Linked DNA regions of Homo sapiens. The protein of the gene in region 2 interacts with the protein of the main gene of each other region in a pairwise test. Each region holds a gene or a part of one and is shown on either strand. Other genes may lie near its edges.

What was found. The genes of interacting proteins can lie anywhere in the genome.
Region 1: the proteins of FAM167A (region 2) and TXLNB interact in binary tests that used the Homo sapiens proteins (3 or more experiments, as listed by UniProt).

What each region holds. Positions count from the first base shown.
Region 1 is NC_000006.12:139,260,378-139,268,304, forward strand, and holds part of TXLNB (beta-taxilin), read right to left. Parts: intron 2,397-7,927; coding exon 2,202-2,396; intron 61-2,201; coding exon 1-60. UniProt on the Homo sapiens protein: Promotes motor nerve regeneration. May be involved in intracellular vesicle traffic.
Region 2 is NC_000008.11:11,442,754-11,450,680, forward strand, and holds part of FAM167A (protein FAM167A), read right to left. Parts: intron 7,585-7,927; exon of another isoform or gene 7,247-7,584; intron 4,021-7,246; exon of another isoform or gene 3,650-4,020; intron 3,263-3,649; exon of another isoform or gene 2,394-3,262; intron 2,056-2,393; 5' UTR 1,659-2,055; coding exon 1,278-1,658; intron 1-1,277.

The DNA of each region.
Region 1 (7,927 bases), on a different chromosome or scaffold from region 2:
AAGCTTTGCATCCACCAGCTTCTGCTGCAGTTCTCTGTGTTTAAATATTTTGTCCAGATGCTAAGAAAAATAAAGTGTACATAGAAAGCTTGGTTTATTATTGGTGCTTAAAAATGCAAAGTAAAATAATTCACATTAATACACATTCCCCAGGTTTTAAGATTTAAAAGAAGAGAGGGATAAATGCATTGGCATCACTTACAGCTTTATAATAAAGCTGTAAATTGGTGAACCCCTCCCCCTGACTTTGCACCACACACACAAAGCTAGCTATAAAAGGTAGAGGCACCAGAGTTCAGCAGTGTCAATGCCAAAAGATCCATACAATATTTTTCTACGTTTGGTAACTATTAGATATGATGCTATTTATTATGCTAGACAGCACAGACAATGATGTATCAGTATACAATATACAGGGGCTACAGTTGTATCATTTGGTATTTTGGCTCTTTCTGTGAATATAAAACCACTTTTAATTGCAACACTTGTGCAATTTATCATGATGAATTCTCTGCATTCTTGCCTCTGGCGTTGTGAGAAAGCCTTGGGGTGCCAGCATGTGGTCCGAGGTCTGGGAGTGAGGCCTGAGCCCCCCTGAATTCTACTCTGTTGCTCTGGTGGAGATGACAAGGCCAAGGGTCATAGAGAAATTGAGTCGCAAATGTGCAGAGCTCGCCACACCTTTTGACCTCTGGACTAGTTTGGTCAAGAGAAACTTCCAACTCTACCTCAGGATGGATAAATTCCTGGTCACTGGGAGGTCCAATCAGAAACAGGACATGGAATTCTCCCCTTGGGCTTTACTTAGAACCAGTCCCAGGAATATACAACTAGCATAGCAGCCCATTCCCATCTGAGATCTCTCTGAAGAATATGGACATTTTCCTTTCACTCCTTCCTATCTTCTTTAGTCTGAACCTCCATTCTGGAGCGGGATTGATCCTTATGACAAGATAAAATGGTAGCATGGCATTTTGGCTTACTATTAGGAGTTTCTTGATTTACCTAACCACCGCGACCATATGCTGTTGGCTCAGTTTTGTGCTTGATAAAATCTTAGCATGTTACCAACAGAGCCGCTTTGACTATGTTATGTTACATTTTAAAGCAGAGATTTAAAATTTGGGTGGGATAGGGAAAGGAATATGATGTGTCAAAATCCTGAGAGGGTATCTGGAATCTTAAAAATATATTAAATATTAAAATATAATTTGGGTATAACAAAAGACCTTGATCATCCCCCTAATATAACCTATTCAAAGTAAAAGGCTTTTGCCTCTTGTGACTGTGGGTAAGTGGTTTAATCTCTTAGCTTCTGCTTCTCATCTATAAGATATGGATAATATATTATTATCTAATGCATAAGATTGTTGAGACAATTAAATGCCATATGGTATGTAAAGTACAGCACTTAGCACATTGCCTGATACAAACTAACCACTGAATAAATGATATCATTATTATTACAATGATTACATTATTAATACTATTATTGGCCTGGTAGGGTACATAGAATACAGACTCTTTTTTTTTTTTTTTTTTTTGAGACGGAGTCTCACACTGTCGCCTGGGCTGGAGTGCAGTGGCGTGATCTCAGCTCACTGCAACCTCCACCTCCTGGGTTCAAGAGATTCTCCTGCCTCAGCCTCTCGAGTAGCTGGGATTACAGGCGCCCACCACCACGCCTGGCTAATTTTTTTTTGTATTTGTAGTAGAGACGGGATTTCACTATGTTGGCCAGGCTGCTCTCGAACTCCTGACCTCTTAATCCACCTGCCTTGGCCTCCCAAAGTGCTGGGATTACAGGCGTGAGCCACCGCGCCTGGCCAGAATACAGACTCTTAATTTAGATGACATGGCAATTCTTAAGAGGGAGTGCGTGAGTTATTTTTGGCTATAGAGAGAGGATTTTTAAAAGGCTGAGAAATATTATTTTCAAGGAAAACTGTGCCCACAGCCTATCACTTTCTATTTATTGCCTTTACTTTGTAGTGATGCCAGTTTTGAAGAAATCCCATATGACTTTCAGTCAGGTATTTTGTAAGACCATCTGTCTTCATTTTGGCTCGTCAAGGAAATCCAATCCTAAATATTAATCAGTTGAGAGGGCTGGCTGTAACTGTCTTATTAACCAAGTTCCCACCTTTAGCTCCCAGATCCGGATCTATGTACTGTTCTAAGTTGTTTGATGTGGTTCTCACCTCCTCTCTGAGCTCATACTGATCGATGATGCTTTTCAGCTTTTCTGCAAGCTCTGTGTTCTCCTGACAGAGCTTCATATTTCGCTCACTCTGCTGCTCGATCTGGCCCTGGATGTCCGTGAGGGTACTCTGGAAATGGCTTGTGATTTCCTTCCTTTTCTCTTCTTCCTCACGTGCCCGCTGAAGCGCCTCTTCCTGCGGATAAAAAGCAAAACATTTTGTTTAAATGCACCCCGGGTTTATAGAACTCAGCATTAGGTCACCTAAAGGAGATAAGTGTGCAGAGTAGGTGGGATGTTTTTTCTCAGTTCTCTAGAGCTAAAGCTGCTCAGCCCCAAAATAAATGTATGAGTAAAGGTTTCAGCTGTGAGTACATAGTTACTCAGAACAGGTGCTGTGAAGGCCTTGAATTTGTAGTCAGTGATGAATAGACTTGTTTTAAAGATGATGCGTCTCTTGCTGAGTGAATGAACTGCAGCGATTTCTAACAAACACACAGTCACACGATTTTGATCTCTTGGCTGTGGCCTGAAAAAAAGGCCACTTGAGTTTACTGATGGATGAGACAGATCATGTGTTTCTCTGGTTTGGTAAAGGGAGAACAATAGATCTTATATTTCCCTGTAAAAACCATGGCATATTAACCACATAATTATATTACCAAGTTTTGTAAATATAAGTGATCACAATAAAAATTTTCTATTTGTGAGAAAAAACTTTCATCAAAAAGCTTTAAAAAAGGAAACTAAGACAGCATAGCTCAATTACAGCCATTCAAGAATATAAAAGGGAATCTTTCCAAACATGCTGGATATTATTTTGTTTTTGAAAGAACAATCATTAAATGTGTCACATAGGGTAATTAAAATGTTCAATGTAAATTTTGAATCTGAAAGCAATATTAAGTTTCAAATCTTCTTTAACTCTAAAGTGAAACATCTAATTTTCCTTCTTCCGCTTTGTTAACATTGAAGAATTGCAAATTAACTTTTATATCATTTCTGTTCTCTTTTCTCCTAAATCAAAACTCTCCATTCATTGCTAGCCACTAACAATGAGCTCCAATTTCCTCCATATCTATATTGAGAATTGCTTTGCGATTGTTATTCTTTTTGAATAAAAGGGTTTAATTTTGCTACATCCTACCAAAGATAGAGACATTTACGTGGCTGACAAATGATACAGACATTTTAGGATTCCTTTCAGTTCTGATTAATTGTTAATATGAAAGCTTGCTTCGTTGTTGGCAAGTAAAATTATACTGAATTTGATTGCCTACCAAGTTCAAATTATGTAACAGGATTTTTTAAAAGAAATAATAATTTTTAACAGAAGTAATTGTACAGACCTTTATCATAACAGAATAATGTGATCCAAATAAAAACTGATGCTGAGAATATATGCTCTGAAAATATTTTATCATTAGGTTTCTTCTTTCCTCTATAATAACAACACATTTCCCAACTCTAATGTGACTCCTGATGTCAGAATCATAATTTATTCATGTTATAAACCTTTATTAAGCAACAACTTCTCAGGGGTATTGAAGATATCTGTACTTCTTAAACTGAAGAAATAAACTATCCGAGATGTTATTTCCCTGAACTTTGTATACTAACACTTACTATATGTGTTTCGCTAAAAATAATTATGGTTACCAGTTAGGAGCAACTAAATATATGTGTGATTATGATTGTTTCCTCACTGGTCCTGATTAGCTTAGAAGTCAGCAAGTTTGGAATCAGAACTACAGACCATGATTTGAATACCGTTTGTATTTATAAATATTCCATGAATGAATAAATGAAACACCCCATGCAAGTCTGAGTTGTTGTTTTTTTTTTAATTGGGAACTGGCTATAGAAAGAAGGTACAGATGATAGGATGGCACTAAATAAATGTCAAACAAACAATCATAACCGCCAATCCTGGCCCAAAAGATGTAATCTTGCATATATATATATTTTTTGTTTTGTTTTGTTTTGTTTTGTTTTGTTTTGAGATGAAGTCTCACTCTGTCGCCCAGGCTGGAGTGCAGTGGCATGATCTCGGCTCACTGCAACCTCCAACACCCGAGTTCAAGTGATTCTCCTGCCTCAGCCCCCTGAGTAGCTGGGATTACAGGCACGCATCACCAAGCTCAGCTAATTTTTTTATTTTTAGTAGAGACGGGGTTTCACCATGTTGGCGAGGCTGGTCTCAAACTCCAGACCTCAGATGATCTGCCCACCTTGGCCGCCCAAAGTGCTGGGATTATGGGGGTTGAGCCACTGCCCCCGGCCTATATTGTTTTTCAATGAGACCAAAAGAAATCTAGCAAAATCTTATAAAATTTGAGTCCATTGTTAGAAGGATTTTCAATCATTTGGACAGTGTCTGAGATAAAATTATCTTTTCTTTATCAAATACATTATTCAAAGTCAAAATAATGTCAATAAAATTGAGGGATGAAGTCTGAGATAACAAAAAAACCTTGCAAGCATCATTGTGCATCTTACAACTGGTGCTGTGCCTGGCACATAATCCAAAGGTATTCAGTAAATGTTTATTTAATGAATCAGTGAATTATTAATTTATGTACAGACATATGAGTAGCTTGGACTAGATCATTCCTACAGTCCTTTCCACATTAAAATTCTGTGATATTCTGACAACAAATGCTTCTCATTTCTTTAGGAAAATCATGCTCCCTGAGACACTTACCCCTCTCTTACTAGGCAGTTCTTTTTCAGCATAGTTTGAGGCTCAGATTTATCACTTTGAATATATGTATGATTTTGTTGAAACAAACCCATGTCTCAGACTTTTATCAATCCTTTCTTAAGTTATCCTAAATTGTGAGGTTGTATGTGTGTGTGTGTGTGTGTCTGTGTGTGTGTGTGTGCGTTTGACTCATTAAAGAAGCGGTTTTAATAAAGAAAAGTAAAAGCTAAAATTTGTGATGGCGGAAATACCTAGTTATACATTGTCTTTCTATATCTTCCCAAGCTCCCAGCGCATGGATTTTAGATTTAGGTACACTTAAGGTGTTTCACTAGTGTGGCCAAGGAAGCTCATATCAAGTTGACCCTTTTGCAAATAACAACTGTAAACTCTGGATGAAATGCAAGAAACAATGATGACACTAGAGAGTAAACAAAATCAGACAGACTCTAGAGGGAAGTTGGCACTTGTACATGAGTTTCCTATTCTTTATAGCTTTTAGCTTGAGGGAAATCTGCAGTTGGCAGGAGTATGAGGTGGGCAAAATTCTCATATAAAACATACCATCTTTCATATTAGAAGAATAAGAATACAGAGTTCTGGACAACTATAGTCCCTCAACAGTGAGGGGAAGATCACCCAAAAAAAGAGAGAGTCAGAGAAATAGAGCCCAGATCCTGTGAATGAACTTTACACAAATCTGATTGGCCTTGAGCCACACATGTGCAAAGCAGTCTAGCTAAGTAGAAAAGAACTGAACTGAGATTTCAGCTGCTGCTCAAGAGACAAAGTTTATGGTTTGAATCTAACCAAATTAATTGTCTGCTTAAAAAAATAAAAACTATTCATCATATAGTAGAATCCAGATTCTCCAGAACATAATAGTCACAATATCCAGGATCCAATAGACAATGGCTTGACATATGAAGAACCAAGAAAATATGGCCTATTCTCAAAAGAAAAGACAATTAGAGAAGGCTTTTTCTACAATGCTGCAAATGTGGAATTAGCAGACAAGTATTTTAAAACAGGTATTATAACTATGGTCAATGATGTAAAGGAAAATATTATCTCAATGAATGAGAAGGTAGAAAATCTCAGGTGAGAGGTTACATACAAAAAAAGAACCAAATGGAAATTCTGAAATTAAAAATCGCAAAATCTGAAACACAACCATCACTGGATGGATTTAGAGCAGAATGAAAATGAGAGAGAAAAGAATCACTGAATGTGAAGATAGACCAATCAAAATAAGATAATCTAAAAATAAAAGAGAAAAAGTATTGGTGAAGAATGTGAAGACTGACTCGAAGACCTGTGGGACAATATCAAAAGGTCTACACACACAGAGTTAGAATCTTAGAAGGGAAGAAGATGGAGAGAAAGTGGAGCAGAAAAACTATTTGAAGAAATAATGGCTGAAAGAAATTCAAATTTGGTAAAAGACATATAATTACAGATACAAAAAAGCTTAGCAAATACCAAGTAGGGTACATGTGAAAAAAACCACTCCTGGCCTTAAAGCAGTAAAAGTTCTGAAAACGAAAGATCAATACAAAGACCTTGAAAAGGGCAGAGAAAAAGGACATATCACATATGGGGGAACAATAATTCAAATGATTGTTGATTTTCATGAGAAATTTTAAAAGCCAGTATAGTGGCACATTTATTTAAGGCTAAAAGGAAAAAAAAAAAAAAAACCCACGAATAGGTTCTCTCAATGCAGAATTCTATATCCAATGAATTTAGCCTTCAATTAAAAAAAAAATAAAGATGTTTTAAAGATAAAAGGCAACTAAGAGAATTGATTACCAGCAGATTTGTACTATAAGAAATACTAAAAGAAGTACTTCAGGCTGAGGGAAATGACATCAGACAGAAATGTGAAGCTACAGAATGAATAAGAAGTATCAGGAATGGTAAACATCTGGGTAGATAAAAGGGATATAGTTTTGCCTTTAATTTAAGAAGAAATACATATTATTGTTTAAAGTAAAAATTATAACAATGTCTCATCGGCTTTACAAAAGTATATAAATATAATACATATAATGATGATAGCTTAAAGGCTGAGGGAGTAAATTGATCTATTTAGTTGCAGTGTTTCTACATGTTATGTGAAGTAATACAACATTAACTCCAGGAAGACTATGAAAAATTAAGAATGTATATTGTAATCACAGAGCAACTACTAAAGATAATGTGTAGTGTTATAATTTCAAAATACAAGAGATGAAATGTAATTTTTAAATATTCAAATAATCCAAAGGAAGGCAGGAAAAGAACAAGATAAACAAAGCAGAGGTGACAAATAATAAATAATAAAATGGTAGACATATATCAAACCACATCAGTAAGTACATTATATGTTAATGGACTAGTACTGCAATTAAAGGGCAGATACTGTAGGAATGAAAAGAAGTAAGATCCAGCTATATGCTATCTTGAAAGAATGCACTTTAAATATAAAGACCCAGGCTGAAAATGAATGGATGAAAAGAGATACACCAGGCAAACAATAAGAGTAAGAAAACTAGAGTGGCTAAATTGATATCAGATAATGTAGACATCCAGACAAAGATTATTACTGGTCGGGCGTGGTGGCTCACACCTGTAATCCCAACACTTTGGGAGGCCGAGGCGGGTAGATCACAAGCTCAGGAGTTCAAGGCCAACCTGGCCAAGATGGTGAAACCCCGTCTCTACTAAAAATACAAAAATTAGCCAGGCATGGTGGCGGGTGCCTGTAATTTCAGCTACTCAGGAGGCTAAGGCAGAGAATTGCTTGAACCCGGGAGGCGGAGGTTGCAGTGAGCCGAGATTGCACCACCGCACTCCAGCCTGGACGACAGAGCGAGACTCCATCTCACAAAAAAAAAAAAAAAAAAAAAGATTACTAAGGGACATTTCATAAAGGTAAAATCACCAATTCATCAAGAGGACATAATAATCATAAATGTATATACACCTAATATTAATGCTTCAAAGTACATAAAGCAGAAATTGACATAATTAAAATAAGC
Region 2 (7,927 bases):
GTGCCTCATCTTCTCCGAAGCCGACAGCACATGCACCCTCTCGTTACTAAAGACGGATATAATAGAATGGTGTGTTCTGAGAAGCACTCTCGGTATCAAGTGTTAAAACGCAAACAGGCTTCCAATTAATCAGTCAGATCCCTGCGTCCCTGAGCCCTGCCCCACTCCAAACCCCAGTGGATTCTCTCAGCCCCTGAGGCATTCCAGGCCTCATGGGGATTTAGTTTTCGGGATTCTGCAAAACAAACCAAGCAGGCCTCAGCCTACCCAGCTGACCCAAGAGCCACTGCCGGCTCTGGAAGGCAGCTGCCCTTGATGGCTGGCTCACCTGTGGCCAGAGTGGCCTGACTCGCAGGTGTCACCTGGGCCTCAGGGACGGGGTGGGGCAGGGGTTGAGAGCTGGGGTAGGGTTAGCTTCATGCCTGGTGCTGCTGAGAGGCTGTCGTGCCAGACACGGGTGATTCTCCCCTGGGGGGGTGGAAGGGGACAGGGCACCCAGCTCTGCCCCCCCACCCTGTTCTCAGGCTGAGTCACCATGCACAAAAGATGCTCCTATTGGGAATCTGCTTTGCCTATGAGCAGGAAAGTGACCGCGCTGCGGTCCCAGCTCAAACACAATGTGCCTTTACCTCACACCTGGCCCCGCCCTGACTTCTGAGCCAACTCCTCCTCTGAGCCTCCTCACCGAGCTTCTCCCCAGGCAGGACCCATCCCGCCGACTCTGGGCAGCTCCACAACTCCTCACCACTCGAGCACATTCCACACCGAGCCAGCTCCTCACAGCAGCGCCCTGCACAGCCACACCCCAGCCACTGTGCCCCATGGAGCCACCCGGCCAGCGCCCAGCACAAGAAGAGGCCGCTCACGTGCAGAAGAGTGGTCCCCGGAGTGGCAGGCAGCTGGGGTGGACAGCAGGGTGGGGAGGTTCCAGCACAGAGGGAGGGGCAGTCACACCCCAGGAGCCAGACTCCAGTACTGGGAGCGGTGTTGGGGGGAGGGGGGTACACCTTAACATGGGTTCAGGTTCTGCCAGAAAACACCTGCTTCCTTCATTAGTGTCTGCAATTAGGGGCTGATGACACCTGGGTCCCCCCAGCCACATACAAATGACGCCTGCCTTCAACTCACGGGAAGATTACAGATGTGCACTTGGGGGTTAGAGAGAGGGGAAGAAATACATGGTGGGGGTGGGGAGACAGACAGAGAGAGACAGAAAAAGACACAGAGAGACGGTGGCATCTCCTCTTTTCTGGGGATTCTTGGGGGCAGCCACTCACCAGTTCCTTCCTGAGCCAGGCTATAGCTTCATCGATGCTCTGAAAGCCTTCCAGCTTGCCAGTGGACAGGGGTCTGGCACCTTGGCTGGCACTCCTGGCAGAAGGGGGGTGCTGCCCAGCCTCTCTCAGGGGGAGCAAGGGCTCCTGCCCCCCACGCTCCCCCTCCTCCAAGCTCGCCTGTGGCTCCGCAGCCGGCCTCGGGAAGGGCCAGGTATGCTCCTCCAGCCTGGCCTGCCATTCCAGGTAGGAGGGCCTGCGGGTCTCCAGCCTCAGTTTCTCGGTGAGGGCCTTCAGGCTCCGGAGGTGGTCATCGGGTGGTGCGGCTGCTCCCGCCCCCTCTTCTGCACCCACTTCTTCCACGTGGATCTGGGGCACAGACATTCTACAGTCTGCCCTGGCAGCCGGACATGCGAGGGCACGGGGGGCGCAGGGGGAGGCTTGGTGGGTGGCACAGTTGGGTCCCGCTCTGGGATGGCCTCATCCAGGTGCCCGAGGGCATTTCCGGGACAGGAGCCGGCCTCAGAGGCTGGGTGGCAGGGGAGCTGAGAGGGACCGCGCAGTGAGCCGCACAGGGCGCCCTCCTGGAGGCTCGGGTCTATGATCCGTCCTGGAAGCCTGTGGGTGCCATGCTCCACAGAAGGCAGGAACAGACAGCGTCGCAGGAATCTCGGGGCAGCCTGTGCCAAGGTCTATCTGTCCTGAACGCACTCGAAGACCAGACTGGCAGGAAGAAGGCCCAGAGCTCTCTCTTCTCGGGAAGGGCAGGTGGCTGGAGACCCTGTGGGAGGGATGAGAACCGCATCAGTCCCGATCCCTGCCCTGCCACTCAGAGGCGGGCACGTCCACTCCACAGGAGGGGAAACTGAGGCTCAGAGTGGACTGGTGGCTGCGCTTCTCATGGCTAGTCCGGGACGGAAGTGAGATCATTTTAATGCCTTAATTCAATGCAGAGAAGTTAATGAGCAATTGAAAAATTGTGCAGTGTTTTACCATTTATATAAAAACGACTCCGCCTCTACTATCTTATTTAATGCCCCCAGCAAGTCTGCAGGGATTTGTTTTTATTCTCATTTCACACACGAGGAACCCACATATCCTAGAAGTTAAATGACTCACCGAGATCTCCCAGCAATAAGTTGTGGGGACAAGCTCAGGCTGTCTGAATCTGAGGCCACAGGTCTTTCCTCTCTGTGGCAACAGCCGGGGGGTCCCCAGAGCCAGCCAGCAGGGAAACCGCACCCCACACAGGCTAAGGTGGGTCTGCTCCGTCCAGGTGCCACTGCCCCCTCACCACCTCCACCCACCACAGGTCCTGTCCTCCAGCAGCCGTTTCTACATCCAGGTCTTACTCTACGCTCCTAGCTTCTTCCTCCAAGAACAACACCTTACCTCACCTCTTCAGAGACAGAAGCAAATAAACCTGCAGCTGTGGAGGGAAGAAGGCGGTGGCACCTGGGCTGGATGGCTAAACAAGCAGGCTGTGACTCATTGTTCTAGAACGAGGCTTCTCGTGTTCACCTAAGTGCCCGCATGGCAGCACCTGTTTGGTAAAGACTTCAGCTATGGGATCTGATGTGGCCTCCCCATCTCCAGAGAGGAGGCATAAGCCCCAGCTCCTACCCCATAACATCAGACACAGGGTAGAAATCTAACTCCCAGTAAGAAGAGACCGCAGCCTCCAGACTCTGTGGTCCGAGGTCCATGGGGTGGGCAGTGGACATGGGTGAATCAGAGTAGGAGACATCTGATTTGGACCCAGGTGGTAAGCCCTGGATTTTAAGGGTGTGTTTTAAAAAAAAAAATCTGTGCTGGGGGACATGCAGCTATAAAAAAGAATGAATTGATATGGAATGATGTTTGAGATAAAGCTTAAATGAAGAAAAGCAAGATTCTCAGCAGCCTGGAGAGTAGGCCACCCTTGGGGTGAAAAAGGAGAAAGAAAGAGGGATTGTTACTGACTTGTAAATGCCTAAAAACATCCCGGCCAAAAAAAAAAAAAAAAAAAAAGGAAGGGAATAGCCATAGTCATGATTACTTGTTTGGAGTGAGGGGAACTGGGCAGAAGGGAGGTGAGGATAGGAGGGAAAAGAATTAAGATGAGGGTGGCAAAAGCTGAACAGGCAGCAGGACCACCTCGCGGTGTCCTGGGATTCCTCTCCGACATGGCACGCAGACGCTTAAGAAAGGAGAGCAGAACTTTCCAGTCCAGACGTTTTCCTCAGCCCCAGCCTGTGGTGGGGATGTGAATGGAGGACGTCCTGCTGCCCGACCTCTGCCGCCCTAGGCTACGAGCCTGCCCTAGCAAGGGGCATCCATGGAGAATGAGAAGGAATAGTCCACCCCAACTGGTAAGCAGAGAAACCCGCTGTCACCTCCAGCTCTGCTTGGAGCAAGCGAGAATCCCCCTGAGGAACTGGATTCTGATTCAATTGGTCGAGAGATGGGACTTAGACAGCAGTGTTCAGCTCCCCCGATGATCCGAGTGTGCAGCCGGGGTGGAGAACCACTGTCTCCAGATGCAGACACTAGAGTTGGGATCAGATGGCCTAGCTCTACGTCTTGTCAGGCTTGCTAAGTCTCATTTTCTTCATCTGTAAAATGGGAGTGATAAATACCAACCTCCTATGTTCTAGCAGATTGGCAGAACTAAAATTCACCGGCACTCTCTGAAGACTTAGCACGCTAAGTCCGCAAATGCGAAATGTACTCATGGGAGTCTCCTGTGCAGTTTCACGGTCAGAATCTGTCCAAATCTAAAGACTTATCAGCTGCTTTCTGGGGCCCCTCCCAGGCGCCGTCTGCCTCTTTGCTGAGGTGCCAGGATCTGTTTTGAGCATGTCTGGGGCAGCTGCACCTACAGGGCTTCCTTCTCCCTGGCAGGGGAGCTCTGATTAGATCCATCAAAGCTTCCTGGAGAGGATTCAACTGCAGGCGGATGAGCAGCACCCTCCCGCCCTGAGTTCTGTGAGGAGATAACATGGATGAGGAGCCCTGGTGGCCCACCCCCTCCCCCACCAGCAGGCTCCCACTGCAGAGGTGAGGGCATCCCACTGGGCTACCACTGCTGGGTGAGGGGCTCCTCTCAGGGTAGGAAACTGCTACAAGTCTGTAACTGTATTGCAGACAATTTATTTCAATTATTGGTTTCTTTTCTTTTTCTTTTTTTTGAGACGGAGTTTTCACTCTTGTCACCCAGGCTGGAGTGCAATGGCGTGATCTTGGCTCACTGCCACCTCCACCTCTTGGGTTCAAGCGATTCTCCTGCCTCAGCCTCCCGAGTAGCTGGGGTTACAGGCAGCTGCCACCATACCCAGCTAATTTTTTGTATTTTTAGTAGAGACAAGGTTTCACCACCTTGGCCAGGCTGGTCTGGAACTGCTGACCTCAGGTGAAGGCCTGCATAGACCATGTCAGGACCATCTGGTGGCACGGGCATTAGCCCCTGTGAACTGTGACCAGCTAGTGATGGTCCTCAGATCTGCTGAGCTTGGTGAAGTGCAGAAAACACAGTGTGCACATCTGCCCATGTGAGCCCCAAAGTAGCCCCCAGAGGCAGGCGGGATCACCCCATTTCACCAAGGAGAAATCGAGGCTAGGGCAGGTGAAGTGCCTCACCTCCTGGTCACAGGCAGGTGCCAGCAGCTGGACCTGGGCACAGTCATTTGACTCTGTCTCAGCCTCTTTCTACTCTGGAGAGTGTGGGCTCTGGGTTAGAGCTCCAGGGCAGCCATTGGCTTTGTGACGCTGGCACATTGCTTCATGACCACTCTGGGCCTCTGTGTCCTCTTCTGAGAAATGAGAACAACCGGAACGACTACATAATTCACAAGGCTCAGTATGAAACGAAGATGCGGGGCTCCTTGTTTAAAAAGTTCTAAGAATTGGCCGGGCGCCGTGGCTCATATCTGTAATCCCAGCACTTTGGGAGGCCGAGGCGGGTGGATCACGAGGTCAAGAGTTCAAGACCAGCCTGACCAACATAGTGAAACCCCGTCTCTACTAAAAATACAAAAATTAGCTGGGCGTAGTGGCGCACGCCTGTAATCCCAGCTACTTGGGAGACTGGGGCAGGAGAATCGCTTGAAACCAGGAGGCAGAGGTTGCAGTGAGCCAAGATCGCACTACTGCATTCCAGCCTGGGCGACAGGGCGAGACTCTGTCTTAAAAAAAAAAAAAAAAAAAGTTCTAAGAATTTCAAGACAGGGACAGCAGAGCATGAACCCACACGAGGGGCCCTGTGCCACTGCCCACAGCCATGAGGCTAGTTCTGGGGATAATAACATCTACCTCGTAAGTCCTAATCAGGGATTCAATAAGGTTACAAATGTGAGCTCTCAGCACACTGCCTGGTCTACAGGAAGCCCTAGACATAGTCATGTAGCCTTAGTCATGGTTTTTAAAATGTCATTATTAAGATGACATAACCTATCAGAGTTATATCACCGTCACATGACAGATCATGACCCTCCAACTGCACTGAGCAGACACTCTGTTGGTCTCTGACCTGCTGGGTGGCCCAAGACAATCCCTGCCCCCTCACATCCTTCCCTGGACACCAAACGACACGAAGTCAGTTGATCCCACCTCCCCCAGATTTTCAGGTCTCAAAACTTAGTGGAGTCTGTTCTGCCATAGAAGGGAGAGAACAGCTCCACTTACTAAAACCATTCCATGCCTGCTCCCTTCCCTCTCTGCTCACATTGTGAATGCCCCGCCCACGGCTCGGGGTGTTGGAGAGACTCCACCCTGTGCTCTCTGCATGGCAGACCAAGGCCAGGCCCCAGAAGCCTGGTTTCTGGTCCCAGCACTGCTGACAAGCCGAGCACCCAGGCTCAGTCCTTTCCTCGTGGCCTCAGTTCCCTAATCTGTGCAATGGCTGAGGATCTATGGAACCTGGTATGTGAGAGCTCTCTTTAAACTGTAAAGAGCTGTACCCACCTGAATAGGCGTGTGTGCAATGTGGAGAGGCCTGAGTTGGGGAGTCACTATTTTAGAGCAGGTGGTCACCCGTAGCTGGCAGGAACGGGATTGCCCCCAGCACAGCCAGATGGTGAGGAGCTGCTGCAGGAATGGGATTGCCCCCAGCACAGTCAGACCGCGAGGAGTTGCTCAAGCAGCATGTGTTTTCCTGGTCGTCAGTGTTTGGGGAGCACTGTCCCCCTGGGTGCCCTGGTGCCTGAACAAGCCCAAAGGGGTTTCTTCCCTCCCACTAGGCACAGGAGCTCAGCTGGAATGTCACCCACACAGGCGCAGGGACGTGACAGCAGAAAAGCTTGTCACTGCTCACTGGGCACTGAGCTGGACCCGGCCTGAGCCGGCAGAGAGGTGCTGGCCGGGTGCCGGGGAACAGATGCCAGCACTGGGCAGCTTCCTGGGCTGGAAAAGCAGTGGAGGCCTCCCCTCGCTTGACAAACCAGGGACTCCTGGGGCCCAGGCCCCGGGAGGAAGAGCCCCCCAACACTCTAAACAAACGGGCTTTCTTTACATGTAACCTGGGTCGTTCCTAGGGGTGGAGGGGCCGGAGAAGGAAGCCAAAGGACGCTGCCAGACCTGGGACCTAGGGTGTCTAGAAAAACGACATCAGACCCTGTAATCCCACCAGGCCCAGGCACGCCCCGCCAGGCAGGCCACCCAGCAGCAGTGGGGACAAGCCCTTGGGGGGGCGCGTCAGCCTTTCTGCAGCTCTGTGTGCCAGTGCCGAGGACCCATGCCACACACAGAGACTGCTGTTCCAACAAGCTCCCTGGCTCCCAGGCCCACAGCGGCTCCTTGGAGGAGCCTTCGCCAACCATGAGCTAACTCCTCTGGCTGCTGGAGGAGCCAGGTGGGGGCAGCTCAGCCAACACCTTGTCTCATTATGACCTAATCTGTTCACCTGGAAAACGGTCACATCCACTTCCTCGATGGGCTCCCAAGGGCAGGGGAAGACGCAGGCACTGCTGACCCATCCCCTCCACACCTCCTCTCACCACGCGCTCCTGCTGTTCCTTCCAGCCTCGCATTCTCCACTAGAACCCTTTCGTTTCTTCTCCATAAGACACAATCTTTCCAACCCCGACCCAGCACTCCTGTCCCGCCGGACACCATGCTCTTTCACACCCCTGACTCGGCACAAGCTTTCCTCCAGCCTGGAAAGCCCTTCACTCCCTTCTGTGCCTTAGTTCAGTTCTCAGGGATTTTCTCCTGGGGGAAGTTTTGCTTGATTTGCCCAGGCTGGGCTGTGTGTACCCAGGACAACCCGAGCACATCAGAGAAACAATTATGTCATCGCAACATTAGCTAATGCTTACAGCACACCACACGAGCTGTGGTGCTAAAAGCTTTACATGTATTAACACATTTAATCCTCACAACAGCCCTATGAATCTGGGGTATCATCATCCCCATTTTACAGATGAAGAGACTGAGGCATAGACAGGTTCGGGACCTTGCCTGAAGCCACAGAGCTTATAAGTGGTGAAGCTGGGATTTGAACCTCTGCAGTCTAGCTCTGAGCTGGCCCCTAACCACTGGGCTTACTGCCCCTCTTAAGCCACAGCACTTACACCCAGGGCCTTTGTCAATGGTCGCCTCTAGCAGACTCTCAACTTCAGGACGAGAACCAAGCCTTTTATGCTGGACCCTCCAGTACTTAGCACAATGCTGCTCTC